Regions from separate parts of the Homo sapiens genome. Here region 2 is linked to region 1. The links come from fine-mapping of genetic effects on gene expression. A gene starts in region 1. The other region holds a variant in brackets. All regions are shown on one strand. Distances are between the middles of the regions.

Region 1 (8,346 bases):
TGACTTTGTTCAAAATTTACCTGGAAAAATTGTACGTTTCTCACTGTGATCCACAATGTTTCTCTTGATAAGAGATCTAGAGGTTTGCATATCATAATTCACAACAGACAAAATCAATGAATACACACAGGTACCCTTCAATCAAATGTGCAACTATTTTCATAGATGCCATTTTTTCTCATTCATTCAACATATATTTACTGAGCACCTACTAATATATTAACTGTACCATGCTAGGCGTACAAAGACAAAATTCCTGCCCTCGGCCAGTTTGCTGAGACAGTTACCAAACAGCACCCAAGTACTTTCTTAAAGTCATCACAGGGTGTTTTGGAAAAGGACAAGGCAGAATGCCTAAAGGCAAATCTCAGAGATGTTGTCAGGGGAACAGTCCTTCAATCTAGACAGTGTTAACTCTCAGAAATGAAGTGTGCTACCTCCTCAACACACACGGACCCCAAATTCAAAGGTTTGGGGAAAGAGCCAAAGTCAGATACAGTTTCCTTAAACAAAAGTCATGCTGTATGTCTAGCTGTCATGTGTTTGACATAAAAACTACCATTACTGTCACATTAAACTACTGTTTTTAAGACACCAAAAGCTTAAAGGGTAGACTTAAGTGTGTGAGACTTTGGAAGTTTATACAATTATTGACAGTAAGATAAAGTAAAAAATAAGTCAAACTCTGTTGACATTACTAAATACATTCAAAACAGTTTTAACAAGGTTGCCAAAGAAATTAGCACTGCCCTAATATACTAGAAGCTTGAATTTTACTGCTTTTCAAAATTTGATACAATGTTACTGTAAACACACACACACACACACACACACCCCTTTAGAAATAATCAATTTCCCAAGCTAGACATAACAATTTTAAATGAACCTCTTTCCATTTTTTGAGTTGCACACAAGCCTTTTAATGCTTTATACTCAGTGCCTTTCTACAGTATAACATTACACTCACATCGCCTTGTCACAAAATAACTGGAGACAAATAAAAACTGTTTCCCAGTTTATTCCCATTTTATGAGTATAAGCTAAGTAGACATAGCCTCCGATTCTCTGACAGTAGGTAGCATATAAGTTATGCAGCAATAAAATAACAGGACAACCCAACTTTGTATTCCTATTTTGCAAAATGTCATCAAAAGTGACCTTAAAAAATTAATATTTACTTACACTTACTTGGCATTTGATGCTATATGTTAGCTACTGTGCTAGGATTAAATTAGATAGCATGTGTAAAATGCCTAACTCTAATGCTATTATTCCCATTAAAGGTAGGAAAGCTGAGATTTGCAGAAGTTGAATGGTCCACAATCCCACAACTGGTCAAGGTGGCAGAGCTAGAAATCAAACCCACGTCTTTCCACTAAAATGAGTGTTTATCACCCAGCATTCCCGAATCCTCTGGTGTGCTTTTTGAGGAGAGGGGCAAAAGAGGTTTCATTTGCTCCTTAAAGAGGCCCACAACCCCACAAACAGTGAAGGTGAACACCCCCCTGCCCCATACCATCACCAGTGTAAGAACCAGAAAATGCACACTGGACTTCAACCCCTTTCACAAAGATTATCACTCCTCTACTCCATAAGAGGGGAAAAAACTACATGGTTTGGTTTTCGTTTCACTTTAAAATTCTCAGAGCAAGTCAAGATTTTGCTCCTGGGAAATTTCCAGCATCCCATGCCGCAGGTTAAGTTACATAATAAATTGCAATACTGTATCAGTTTACACGCAATTCTGAGATTTCACAAATAGTGACCCATGTTATTTAATCATTCCACTTTCCAAAATGTGTTTCAATCAACCAGTTCTCACTGCATTGCCTGTGAAATAAGTTATCATTATATCCACTTCCAACAAAGCAAAGCACTGTCACCCTGAGGCCAGGCAATAAATCAGCGACAGAATGGGGATCAGAAGTTCCCCGACAACATCCCTCCCCACCACCTGCAAGACCATGTCACTTACCATGGAGCACCCTCCTAGCTAAATAGAAAACATAAAGCAACTAACTACTCTCCACCAGCGGCAATACTAAATTAGGAACTATTGGTGAATCATTAAGTTAGGGTACACCCCCAGCTTCCCAATGCCAGTGTGCTCATCTGTAGAAGTGGAGGCAGAAGTTAAGGGGCAAACACGTGGCACATGCCCCGCACCTTGAAAGGGAGATGTAATCAGCGAGGAAGGCTGGGGCAGTACAGGGTTTGATCATCTCCGCTAGGATGTAGCTCTGCGGTGGGTGAGGAACTCAGCAAACTCCTGACATCCCGCCGCTAGGATCGATTTGGAGCTATGGATTCATCTGAAATTCCTGATTCGAAACAGGAGTATGAGAGTGAAAATGAAATTTACCTTGAAGCTCCTCCTTTTACAGATTATGGAACTGAACCTCAGAGGAGTGAAATGATATACCCAAGGTCTCACCACTCAGTAGCAGAGGCAGTTCTAGAAAGCAGGCCTCCAGACCCTTATCCAGGATCCTTGCAATGGGGGCTTAGGGGAATTAGGGAATGGGTCATGGTTACTGCAAGTGGCTTGGCCAAGAACCAGCTAAGCAGCTAAGGCTTGTTCCATCTCTGCCAAGCTAGGACTCGCCTCCTCTCAACCTTGTGCCACATCCAGTTTTTGCTTCCAGGCTGGGGGCCTCTGATTGCTTACTCTAAGGGACAAAGGCAATTATTTACTAAAGCTAACCCCATCCAAGATGAGGAAAATACAACACTGGCACTCAGGAATTAATTTCACAATAAGTCTATGTTAAGGTGATGTTTTATTTGTGGCCCTGCCTGATCAAGATGACTTCCCCACAAGAAACGTCCAAAGCAAACAATCTTTTTTTTTTTTAAACTGAGTCTGGCTCTGAGACGTGAAGAATTGTACACTTCTTTAACTGTCCTCCAAAAGCAGAAAATAAGCCGGACAGAGCAGCCAGAAGGACACCAGAGTCCTATGCTCAGTGTGTCAGGAAGCGACCCACAAGTTCTGGAGGAACATCCTTCCAGGAAACTGGGCAGATACAGATCCCCCACCCCGCTCCGCCCCGCAAAAGGTAAGACGATCTGTACTCGGTTTGGTGACAAGCGTTCATCTGGACAAGCTGGAAACAAGTCTGAACGGGAGCTGCAGGCGCGCACGCCAGCGCCACCGAGGGAGCGCGGGGAGTCCTCTTCTCCCAGAGGACCGACGCTGCGGGGACGCGCCAAAACCACCCGCGGGCGATCCCAGGGGGCTGGCGCCACTGAAACCTCCGCAGGCAACTCCGCGGCTACCGCTGCCCCCCACCCTACTCCTGCCTCTTACCCCCAAGGCACCATTTCTCCCCCTCAACTCCCTGCCCCTCGGCCCAAGCGCTTCGGTGGGAAACAACGCCCACTTTGGAGAATCAGAGGTGAGTTGTGGGGACACGCCAGATGTCCAGATCGCATCCTTTCACAGATCAACCAAGTCAGATACAAACACGAAGGAGTTTGCTTCTCTGACATTTTAAAAACACACCATCAGGCAGCACACTGAGACACACACACGGGGGTAACAGCCACAGGGAAGTCAATAACCCACAGGGGGGCTCCTAACTATCGTTGTCCCGTGCTCGGGGCAGAGCGCTTGGGGTCCCTCCCTATCTCCAGGCCACAGCGCTCTCCTGCCCACTGCCTGTGCGCAGGATGGGAAACTACGGTCGCCCGGCTGCCGGAACCCAGAGTGGGCAAGCTGGGGAAAGGCCCACCTCCTCGTCCTGCTCCTCCTGGGACGCGCTGCTGCCCCGGGGCGCGGGCGGCACAGCTCCTCCGGGAAGCGGCGGCGGCAGCGCAAGGACTCCGCGCTCCAGCAGCACGCTTGCCGGAGCCCACGCGGCGGGCGCCCGGGCGCCCAGGGTGCCTCCCAACGGCGGCGGCGGCGGCGGCTGATGCTCTCTGGAGAAGCCGCCGGGCTCCCCTTCCTCCGACAGAGTTTCTGAGCCCGAGGAGGACTCGGCCGAGGAAGCACCCGGAGAGGACGCGGCGACCAGCGCAGAGGCTGGAGTCCGGCTGCCGTGGCCACTGCAGCCGCGGGGCACCGGCTCTGGCGCCTCCGAAACTTTCTCCCCCATTTCCCTGTCTGGCCCAAAGTGCCTCCCGAGCGGCGGGGGCGCGGCGCGCACTCAGCGCCTCCCGGGGAAGACGCGGGCTCCTGGGCTCAGGCTCACTGGCACTGCCGCTCCCGGGCTGCAGGGAGCCCCGCCAGCGACTACATGGCAGTGACGGGGCCGCAGGAGCCCGCTGCTAAGTTCACAGCCGCCCGGGCCCGGCCGCAAACGGAGGCTCCCGCGCGCGGGGACATGCCCGCTCGGGTCCGCGATCTGCGCTCCACTGTGCTCCCGCGCTGCACCCGAGCCGCGGGTACTGCGGCTTCTCCTTGCAAAACCTGCCTCCGGGACGGAGCAAGGAGACGGGCAGCCCGCAGAGCCAATGGCAGGGCAGGCGCGCTGGTGGGCGGAGGCTGCGACGCCTCCGGCCATGAGGGCCTCAGGTAGGGGAGGCGGGGCCCGGGCGCGGGCCGTGGTCCCGCTGGAGCGCCTGGGCGCAGGGGACAGGGACCAGGCGGGGGTCCCCGGAGGGTGGGGGCGGAGCCCAGAATCGGAGCCAAGGGCTGAGACTCCGAACTTAGCGGGGGAGTGGCTGACCGTCCTTGGGACGTCAGAGGGAGACGGCGAGCGGATGGTGAGACCTTGGAGAAGAACTGGACTTTGTCTCCAAAAAGTGGAATCAAGAAAACGGACAAGAAGGAGGGCTCTATAGGGAAAAAAGGAACCACACACACACAGTCACCCACGCACACGGACTCACCAGCGTGTTGGAGGAAAAGGACAGAAACTTCGTGGTATAGTGAGCGGACCCAAAGGGGAGTGACCTCTAATCTCTGCTTTTCCGTTTAAGCTCTTTGGGCCTCAGTTTCCTCAACTGTAAATGGCTACATTACTACTGGTCTTGGCAGGCTTAGAGCAAATATATATAATGCATCAGCAAAGTGCCTGGCTTGGATACACGGAGCGTTTTTAAAAGACTATTTCCTGTCTTTATTTCTGTTTGTAAACTAAAAAGTTAAGTCTGAGACTTGAACCTTTTGATAGGGAGGAAGATAAAAAAGTATGTCCTTGTATTTAATTAGGACCAAGCTCTGTAGTCCTACTCAAATTGTCTGTCTCGGTATGATCAGCTAAGCAGAGGATGAAAAGGATTCACTTTCCAATGTACATTCTCCTAGCCCTGGGTTGTAAACCAACAGGATACAGGACAGGTTGCTTCATTTTCCTTACCTCTAAGAACTAGGAGAAAGAACTTTCACTAAAGGTACCAATAGAGTACCCTTAAGTCCTTCCCTGGGGCTGGAGGATGCTGCCTGTCCGGTGACTGGAATTTCCTTGGAAGCCAGCACTCAGCTCAGCAGTGGGAAATAAATGATTCCTCTCTTGCCTTCAGCTCTAGTCCCATTCTGAGCTCTGGCACAGTGACCTGGGATGTAAATTCAACCGCCTCAGTTCCATGTACGTTGATGGAGATGTGTGCCAGGTGCAGGGGATACAAAGATTAATAAGTCAGGTCCCCTGCCCTTGAGCAGCTTATGGTCAAGCGAGAGATTGATACTGCATAATATAGCTCCCTTATCCATTTTAGAAGCTGTGATAAGTGATACAGGAAAAATGTGTGAGGGAGAAGAGGAAAGAGTTACAGAAAAACAGTAGCAGGTCCTTGAGCATCTTAGATTTCTCTTTGTCAGAGCAGCCTTGCCAAAGGTCCTTAAAAACTGGAGGACCCTAATTGAAAGCCCCTTCAGCTAATGAGCCTTTCATGCTATCATGGTATTTACAAGTGATACATCACACAGAGGGCTTCATCATATTGGACAGCAACCTTTGTCCTGATCAGTTTCCTCCCCTCAAGATGAAGGGGAAGGAAATACGTTTTGTCTATCTTGCTTCAGACAGCCATACTGCAAAATGGACTCCGGTTGTCAGGCTTTCATTGTGACGCTTCTGAATTATTCACAGGGATATGAAGACCTGCTGAGGCAAAAGGTCAAGTCTAGTGGCAGCTAAGTTGTGAGAGCAAGGCTAAAGAGAGAGCACAGTGGGGCAGTCCGAATTTAACCCGGGCCTCACAATTACTTTCCTATTTAGGAGTTCTGGTCTTTATCTGAGCCCCTACGTGGTTGATTCACCAGAGCTGAACTGAAATGACAATTTCAGCCATGCACATAAAAGAAGAGGAGGAGTTGCTTTTCAGTACATAGGGAAATAAGAAGCAAGGTCATGGTCTGAATAACCGACAGCAAGAATGACAATAGTTATTATCGCCTGAGTCCTCTGCATCTTCTCTGGATGGTCTCATTTAATCCTGGCAACAACCTTGTGAAACAGATTCTATTAGTCCCACTTTATTGATTAAGAAACTGAGGATCTGCAAAGGTCACACAGCAAGTAAGCAGTGGAGCTGTGGTTTGGAACCCAGCAACCTGATTCCAAGGCTGTCTTTCCTAGGCATTCTAGTATTAATACAATGCCACTCAAAACAGACAGCTTTTTCAAATATATATATATACCATATTATAAATATCCATAGGGAAGAAACTTTGCTGTATTGATTCAATCTGTAAAAGAAAATACTTGAGGAACATATTTGTTTTTCCCACAAACATTTTTAAGGTACTTACTATGTGCCAGGCAGGATTTTAAGCACTTTAAAATGTTAATATACTCAATTCTCATACCAGCCCAATGAGGTAGCTACTATTACTATTCTCATATCATATTTGTGAAATATGTGAAAACTATGACAGAGAAGTTAAGTAATTCAGCTAAAGTCACACAGCTAGCAAATGATGGACCCAGGATTCAGATTTGAACATTTGGTCCCAGCATTTGTGCTCTTAACCTCTACAGATCAAAGTCAAGTACTAGATCAGTATTTCTTGAACTTTTTAAACCTGAACCTCAAATAAGAAATATATTTCACACTGGAACTCATGACACATATGCATATGTACAAATACAAATAAAATGTCATGAGACAATACTTACCCATCCTTTAAGCAATGCACCCTGAAATTTATATTTTATTAAAAATAAAGATGCTAGTTGTAGTCCACTAAATAGATTTCAAACTCTACTTCAAAACTTGCAGTTTAAAAGTGTACTTGTTCATCTCCACACCCACCTGTGAGGGAAATAAACTGTAGTTCAGGCTAAGAGTATCCAGACCAGAACATGGCCAACTCAAAGGATAACTATAAATAGAAGATGACTAGAGAGTCAGGATAGTTCCCCAAAAGTATCCTAGTTAGACCCATGGATAAATTTCCTGGGGTGTGGCCAAACCACTGGACCAAAATCAGTTTTGATTTATCCAAATCCTGAAGTTCAACTTTCCTATCTTGTTAATTAAATAATAAATATTTTCCTCAGTGGTCAGAAATGTGCCCCCTCCAAGAGACCTTTTTATAAACGTGTCTAGTGTTGGAGACTGTGGGACCAGAGGTGAGTGTGAAAGCACAGGTTTTTCTCTGCAGTGTCACCATAGGCAGGAGCCAGAAAAATAAAAACAACATCATCACAACTCCTGAAAAGCCAATAGTGTAGCGTCACATGACAGAACCAGACTAGCCTAAGGCGAGGAGAGACAAGGTCGGTGTACTCCAAGGTAATCAGTTTCCATGTGTTCTGTGAGACATGCTCACAAAGTATTTGATTCAAGGACAGCACCCCTGGGAATCCGGTAAGTATTCATTGTGTTTTGTGATTGAATGCCCCCCTCCGGTTTCTATGTTTTTCTCAGAAGTGACGGGAGACATTTCCTCTGGGAGTCTCTGTTGTCTCTGCCAGTCTCTGCTGTGTAGGTGAGGCCTATTGTGAATGTCAAGCTGTCTCTGCCAGATGGACGATGTTCCAGCAAAGTCATCATACCCTTAAGTCTACTCCCAGTGTCATGACCTTTCTCCCAAACATCAGGTTGGGAGGAAGGTCAGTTGTCCTTCTTTCTTACATAGATGAAATTAGAACATCATGAACTCAGAACGAACATTTTTGCAAAATCACAAGTAAATATGTTTCTATTTAATGCACTAAAAATCCTAAATATCAGATTATCTTTGAATTATGAAGATGATTATATTATCCAACTTTGGTAGACTATTTTTATTATCATTGTTAATGATGGATTTGCCTACTCCCCTATGACTAATAAAGTACAATTTCAAGACAAAGTAAGCATCTATCAAAAGGTGTCTGTTGAGATGCGCTAGATTGGGGTTTCCGATTTATACCCGAGGGTGTAGCATGATACAGACCATGGAAGTTTCTGATC
Region 2 (8,346 bases), 430 kb before region 1:
AACCTTTCTTAAATCTCCCCCTTCTCAAATTAGTGGAAGTTTCCATTTTACAGTTTCTCCTAAAGATCCTGGAATCTTCATTAGAAAGCAGAGATTGTGGGTCAGGCTGTGCTGAGAGGTAACAAAGTCAGATTTTTTCATTGGCCTCCAGAGGCTTAATCTAAAATGGATTACAGGTACAGCAGGATAATTCACAGAAAGATTTAGGCAACTGCAAACATTCTGAAAGAATCTATAGATTAAATGAGTTAAAGCAGCCATGGAGCAAGAGTTTTTGGAAGGGGGGCAGATTGCTTTTGACAAATAAGCACCCCTTCAACGCAAGTGACAGAAGTAGGTCACGATGAGTAACTGAATTTTCCACTGATTCATTTCCACATATATCAGAGGCAGTAAAGGACACCAGTGATCTAGTTCTCCACCTGTAAGAGCTGTACAAATTAGTTCTCTCACGAAAGAAGGTGGAATAAAAACTGACCCAGCAGGGAGAACTGCCATCCTGACCTATGAATAGGTCACTAGGCAGTAAGGTCAACAGGCCTGACAGGAATATTCACTTCAGAGAAGTCCCCCATCTTTAGAAACTCTAACAATTTAGATTGTAGGGATATGGGAACAAGATGATTCCTGCTCTTTCTCCAGCTAACAGATCAGCACAATCAGGTTTAATGGTGTTATGCCAATTAACATGTATTTTACAAATCTTCACTAAGTCTGTACGCAGTTTTTCAGTGTTTAACTTTGAATGCAAATAACCTCTACTTTAAGTGTGATAGGGAAAAATTTTGCAAATCATGTCTAAATACAAATTCATTTATTTTAGTGCAAATGGAGCATACCACTGTAAATGTCAAATAGTCACCATCCATTATGATAACAGGGCCCAGCCAATCTTTCCAACTTATTCAAAGTTCACTGCATGAATGATCCAAGCCCTCAGTCCCTAGACAGAACTTAAAATATGTCCTTATTAAAAAATTCAAGGGCAATAAATCAGGCTAAAAAGGCGACAAGAGACGACCCTCCTCTGCCATCAACTCTGGGAAATGCCCAGGGCTTTCTGCTGGACTAGCCAGGGAGCTGACAGATTCTCTGTATCTATGCAGAGGAAAGCAGCAAAGAGTAGCAATTTAAAGACTGATAATCTCCACCCACCAGGAACTGATATTAATCTATTTAATAAACGCATACATTTTAGTCTAGTCAGAGATCATCCACAGATGAAAGTAAATGCTTTTTTCACATAGGAAAAAAATATCCTATGTGGAAGTGTTATCCCCAATAGACATCAATTTTACTTTTTACAGGACAGTTAATGAGTTAGGCAGCATTATCCACACTTTAAACAAAAGTAGTCAAATTCTAGCAACTTCTGAAATACCAGCCAAAGCTACAGGAAAAAAATTTCACCATAACAGTTAATTGGCATAGAATCAACACCCATGACCTTGGCCTCTTTAGCACAATGTTCTATTGCACTAAAATACTAAATAAAAACATAGCGTTTGAGATACCCAAGGCTTTATAAAAGTAGACGTTGTAAGAGAGTGACACAAACACCCAAGATAAAAAAAGTGCTGAGGTACAGAACACTTAGAAGAGGTTAGGTGTTCCAAATATACAATGTTTGTATGGTTTTAATGTTTTAAACTAAACTCCCTTGAAACTACACAACAGAATGGAAGGGCTTAAAACCACAACCTCATTACTAATACAAAACAGATCTTATTTTAAATATCACCCCTTAGGACTCTGACCAATTTGCCCCAGGCCTGCTCTGGAATGGTGATGTACAGAAATGAAAAGGTATTTATTTTCTGAGTTAAAATGTCACTCAGATGATCTATTTTTGCCACCAGTGCTATGGTTACCTCTTCAAAACCAAAATGATGATTATGTCATTTTACCACAGCTATCTAATAAACATCAGATGGTCATCTCAGAGCTCTCATTCAGTGCTAACCTGGTTCAAGCCAAAGTTTAAAAAGAAAACAACCCTAAACCATCAAATATTGCTTGTAACACTATAAAACAAAAGAGATACGGAATACAGGTATCACACCATGCTATTACTAAATTAACTATAGAGCCTTTATGTTGTATTGCCCTGAGAAATGATTTGTTAAATAAAAACCTATAAGGATGTGAATGACCCATATGTATACAAAATATTTAGATAATAAAAATACACATTTAATTTGAAATTTGGTTTTACAATTTCCTAGATGCTCCTAAATATATATAACACTTAACAAGGAATCATGTGAAATACTAGTAAATTTCAACCTTAAACATACATTTTTATTTAATTGAAAAAATTTCATTAAACAAAATTTAAGTATATAATTTAGAGAAATTCAAATGTATAAAAATAATATATAAGTCTTAGTTTCAGAATAATTAGGATTAACTTTGTGCAAACTCGTAAACAGGACAAACTTCAAGTCCACAGCAATTTCAATAATGTTGTTAATATCAAATTATAAAGTCAACAGCAATGAATTTATATTTTCCTTTCTCCTACCTTTTTCACATGAGGAAATGTACTTTCCTTCTAAAACTCCTACTATTCCATCCACCTCACTTTCATTCTTCATGGACACAGAAATCATGCTGCCAATAAAGGTTTTCTAAGTAGCAAACACTTTTTGTTCTTATCAAAAAATAAACAAACAAAACCCAACAATCAAAACACACCATCACCTTGCCATAGAATTTTGCAACCCCAATTTCCTGCTCAATTTCTTTCAAACCTCTCCAGCCTAATTTCCTTTTTCTTAGAGATGAAATACACAGAATGGTAAGGTCCCTCAATATACTTAACTAAAAGAAACATGCTAGCAGTTTGATGACATTTCAGTAGGTATCTGATCCTCCTACAAGCAAAGATGTTTACATCCCGAATATTACTCCAAAGTAAAACAAAACATATATGCCTATGGGAAACATAAGTATAAGGATGGCTCTATGGCTTGTCTTTCCTAGAAAACACTTTTAAAATCATGTACAAATTGTCTCCCCATCCCCACCTCCATTTCTCTTGGGAATGCAGAGGGCCAGAAACCTTAGACTCTGACCTGGGTCTAAGCAGACCATAAATACTTGAAGCTGCTGGAAAATAAATATTCAACACTAATTACCTTTGGCACTCTTCATTAATCTTTATGTATATGACTTTTTTTTTTTTGAGAGAGTGTCTCGTGCTGTCGCCCAGGCTGGGTGTAGTTACGTGATCATGGCTGCCTGTAGTCTCAACCTCCCAGGCTCAAGTGATCTTCTCACTTCAGCATCTCAGGTAGCTGGCACTACAGGCACATGACACCATGCCTAGCGAATTTATTTATCTTTTATTTTTGTAGAGATGGGGTTTTGCCATGTTGCCCAGGCTGGTCTTGAACTCCTTGGCTTAAGCGATTCACCCACTTGGGCCTCCTAATGTGCTGGGATTACAGGCATAAGTCACCATGCCCGGCGGTGGATGACTCTTAATCCCCAATCTGGAACTCTCTTGCCTTCCATCCAGATCCACATATCCAGCATCTCCACTTGGGTGTGTCTATAGAAGCTCCAGTCCAATGAATCCCAAACTGAAGATATCATCTTCATCCAACGTGTCTTGCTTCTGTGTTCCCAATTTCAGTAATTGGTACCATTGTCTAACAGGCTAAAGCAGAACTATGAGCACAACCTCCACTTTAGTTCTTCTTCACTCTAATCACTCAGTTAGTCATCCAGTCTTTCAGAATCCACTTCCTGAGCGTCTCCCTTCATTCTCACGGTCACCAGCCTGCTTGTGGCATCATCACCATCTGCCCCAGAAGCCCGTGATGCTTGCTCTAACTCAGATCCTGGA[A/C]TCCTTTTTGCACAACTCCAGTTCAATCCCTCATTGCTAGGAATCTTTCCTACAGGCAAATGTGATCTTATTGTCCTGTACAAAACCCTTCAGTGGCACCTCCTACCCTCAGAGTACATTTCCTGTTTGCCACTCTAATGGAATTGCTCCTCAACTCTCACTCGAGTCTCTGTACGATAGCTATTTGTTTTGTATTGTTGTTGTTGTTGTTTTGCCTAGATTACAGTCTTCCACATTTCAATGATCTCTCACCCATCAAGGTTGTTTACTTCTTTCACAGCCCACTTTTTTGTTGTGTGTCTCCTGGATGCCCTCAAAGTTCACTATAATCCCCACCATGCATGGCTAAGAAGGAGTAAGACAGACATATACTCACACATGATACTGTAAATTCTGTTACTTCTTTGTGTTTTCCTGTCTCTACACCCAACTCCACAGCATTTCCCATAAAGCTGCAAGCGTTCAAGAAGGTAGAGACTCATCTGTCTCCTTCACCACTGCCTCTCCAGCACAATCCCTAACACATGGAAGGTGCTCAACTGATATTACTGAATTAATGAACAAATAAATGCAGAGGATGGAGAGTCAACTACACTCAGCTCCAAATTCCAAGCTTCATCTCCAAGTGAAATCTCCTCTGCATATCTTAAACTTAGAGGTGGTTATAACAACAGATCCTATCCTAAAGAGTAGCTTCCAGGAAGTAAGGATATTTCATATCTGAATTGCTTAATACAGACTAGAAGTCAAAAAATTCCTTCTTCATCCAACTCTATTCATTAACAATCCACAAACATGTTTTTAGACTGAAAACCCTTATGGTGAAAAGGCTTATTCTTATAAAATGCACAGCTTCTACTTTTTACTCTGACAGGTAAAGTTTATATTTGGAATTATCAGAAGAAAACTAGAAGGAAGCTCTGCCATCTTTGATGCAGTTCTATGGTTAGAATCAACTGTGCATTCAGGAACCATGTCTAAGACTCCATCACTAAACTATGTTTCTTTTTGCAGTTGTACCAGGAGGTATCATTAGCCCTCCAGATCCTTATGTGCACAACGTGTATTTACGTTCATCTGTGAGTGCATACAGAGATATGGTACTTGGCTAGATTCAACTTTGCTTCCACAGCATAGTTGGGAATCTGATGAGAATAAAAAACATCTGTATGAACTCTTGGTCAAGACAGATACAGTTTATTTTCTTTTTGTAATAATTATATATTTCAGTGAATTCAGTACTGCCAATAAATACAAACAGCACTCAAATCACCTTTCTTAGTACAACATTAAAGTATAAAACTGCTGTCTTCTACACTAATTCTCTGAATTGTATCATTAAAAATGTAGATAAATATCCTTACATATTTTGTAGCAATAACTCTGATATTTTACAATAATTATATAAACATGTGTTCTTGAAGATAATAATCTTATGTAAAATCATTAAAAATAGGATATATTATATCCTACCTTCCATATTTAACATGATATATTTGGATTTTTACAAATAAAGGTAACTGGCTAATTTAAACCTGATTTCTTTTCAAAGAGTTTCTCTTTCATCTGCATTAAGAATTAAAATATTAATATAAGGTGAGGCCCAAAGATAAGGAGGGAGGGAGTCTTTGCCCTCCACATCTGTGTCAGGCTCCATGAGTCATTAAAAAATGAATTGTTTTTTCCATCTTTTTAAAACAGAATTCTGTGGTCTCAAATATTCCAGAAGTGTGCCTAAGGGGCTATGATTTACAATTATTCTGTCTCATGCTGATTAGCATAAATGACCATGATAGAAAACTGTATGAAACCCTAGAAGAGTCAATAAAATGTATTGATCCATAACAACAACTAAAGGAGGAAAAATTACTTACAGTCTATGCTTCAAGCTTCCTATCTAATTTAGTAGAGGATCTTATAACCTGAAAATAATTCCATGTTTACAAAGCATTCTGCTGATGGTTGCATGAATTACATTTCACCAGCAGATAGACAAATCAATCTCTGCACTTTGCTCTACTCCCCAGTCTATCAGGCTGTGAGTCTGTACCCAAATTAACACAGGGGCATTTATGCAGCAGCTGTAAAGCCAAAAAGAATGCTCCTCTCCATTAGAAACTGTTGTGAGATGCTGTTGTGGTAGGCAAGTGGCACGGCATGTAAAAGCATTTGAGGCTTTGCCTCTTAAAATATTTTTTCCCCTCTAAAATGTAGCATCGAAGGTGGTAGGTATATAGGTAATGGGAAGAAATGTCTTCACTCCTCTGAAAAGGTTAGGATAAATTTTGCTCGCCACTTCTCTTATTCATTGTATATTTAGACCTTGATCATTAAAACACTTACAAACTCTAGGAAAGAAAACTGCTTTAAGACTAACAGATGAGAAGTGTTTTATCAATATTATTCTTTAGCTTTTTTGTATTTCAAAGATTTTACTTTCCAGCTGAGCAGCACCAATTCAAGCCTGACAAGTAGGTAGGTGCAGTACACAATCTTTATACATTCATGGCCACATTTAATTAGGGAAAAGCATGCAGTTATGACAAAGGAATGGTGAGATGCTGACAGATACAGACTCCTTTAAAGTACTACACGAAGTACAGGGGACACAGTCACATTTCCACATGTCCGGGCCTTGGGGCCCTCCAGAGGCACATGATGTGGGTGATAATTACTCTACTCCTTTCCTATAGTTCTTCTTTGTTTTAATATACTCCGGGCTTTCCTAGCTACATGCTAGCTAAACATAACTGATGAAAGCCAGCACTTTTCTGACTGGAGTGCTGACCAGGTAAATCAAAGGTTACTTTTTTTGTATAACATCCCCTCAATTATGCCAGGCCCCTGATAATCAAGTTTCATAACAAACTCCAGAGGCCACCTGGGTCAGCCTTTCACTCCACTACTAGTGTTTAACCCACTGGAGACACCAGAGAACTTCTGACCTGGAGTCTGTGGACTTCCAAGATGTCTATGAATAGAACTCACTGGGTCCACTAACTTGGCTTGTTTAAAAAAATTATTATTTTCACTAACCAGAAACTGAAATGTAACATTTCCTTCATTTATACATCTATCATCATAGTATTAGCCATGTATTTTCCATATCACATTAACAGTTGTTGCAGATATATTAAAAACTTATTTGTATTCATTATCACTTCAAAGTTACGGTAGTTACTAGACATGCCTCTAGATCTTGATATCTGATGTGCTAATAAAGAACCACATATATCACAAATATTTTAATGTGTTCATGACTCTTTCATTATAATTGGTTTCCTTTATAATATTACGTATCTTATGTTATGCATTTAAAAATGTTATTCTGAAATTACATCCATAGGCTTTACTATACTGCCAATGGAATCTTTAATTAAAAAATAAAAAAACAAAACAGGTAAGCAAGAGAGAATCCACAATGTCTTGTCAATGTCACACAACTAGTTAGTGGCAGAAACGTGAACAGAAACAAGATCTCTTTTAAAATTCTTATTTTTAATGGACAAATAATAATTGTACATATTCGTGGGGTACACAGTTATATAAAACAAGATCTCTGGTGTCATACTTCAGGGCTCATCTCATTACGCTGTTTCATTCCAGATGACCTTAGCTAAAAATAAAAAAAAAAACATGGGATCCCCAAAAGAAAGAACATAAAATGGAAGCATGTTCTAGGCACTGAATGAGGCACTGGGTTCTCACATGCATCATCCCTTTCCTTCTTACAATCTTTTGTCATCATCGGTATGTGTGGACCTATCAGTTTCTTCATTCAAGGTATTCAAAAGCAAGTTTAGATATTAAGTGTTAAAACTCAAACATCTAAGAAAAAGAAAATCAGTTCACCTATTTACCACCAAAGAGGATTATCCTCAATGACTGCAAATAGTACTTACACATTACTTAGGATGAAGATAACGCAATCCTTTCTAGAAAATAGATTTGAAAGTCTTTTGAATGTGTATATATAGATATGTATATATCTATATATACACACCCCACATTTTGAGCACAACAGTGCACCTTCCATATATATGCTTGCACGATTATGTATGTGTATACATATAGATATATATCGTGTGTGTACATATATAGCTATCTATATGTATGTGTGTGTGTGTGTGTATATATATATAGATATATATATATATCTTCCTTGTTTCAGGCTGAACAGTGTTCCATCGTGTGTGTGGATGGAATACTGTTCAGCCAGAAACAAGGAAGAAAATTCCAAGACATTCTACAACATGGATGAACCTTGAGGACATTGTGCTAAGTGAAATAAGCAAGCCACAAAAAGACAACTACTACATAAGTCCACTTAAATGAGGTACCTAGAGTAGTCAAATTCATAGAGACAGAAAGTTAGAATGGGGGTGGCCAGGGGTTGGGGGAGGGGGAATGGGGAGTTGCTCTTTAATGAGTAGAGTTTGTTTTGCAGGATGAAAGGAGTTCTGTGGCTGCACAGCACTGTAAATGTACTTAAC

Direction of the effects. Positions count from the first base shown, and alleles are read on the strand shown. Sizes are in standard deviations (SD) of each study's normalised expression.
As copies of A replace C in region 2, the expression in regulatory T cells of the gene that starts at base 4,360 in region 1 goes up (moderate effect, 0.57 SD a copy in Schmiedel 2018).

The links. PIP is the estimated chance that this variant, and not a neighbour inherited with it, causes the effect.
Region 2: its variant is fine-mapped to the expression of MAST4 in regulatory T cells (Schmiedel 2018, PIP 0.93).

Annotation. Positions count from the first base shown.
Region 1 is chr5:66,592,407-66,600,752 of GRCh38, reverse strand. It overlaps MAST4 (microtubule associated serine/threonine kinase family member 4), which reads right to left and starts at 4,360. Exons shown (of 29, transcript NM_001164664.2): 1 at 3,735-4,360. The coding sequence starts at 4,097. RefSeq lists silencers at 3,615-3,764, 3,775-3,914, 4,525-4,724.
Region 2 is chr5:67,023,975-67,032,320 of GRCh38, reverse strand. All of the region lies in intron 4 of MAST4 (microtubule associated serine/threonine kinase family member 4), which reads right to left. Among named protein-coding and RNA genes, the nearest start is that of MAST4-AS1, 24 kb to the right of the region's middle. The variant A/C (reference allele first, on the strand shown) is at 3,854.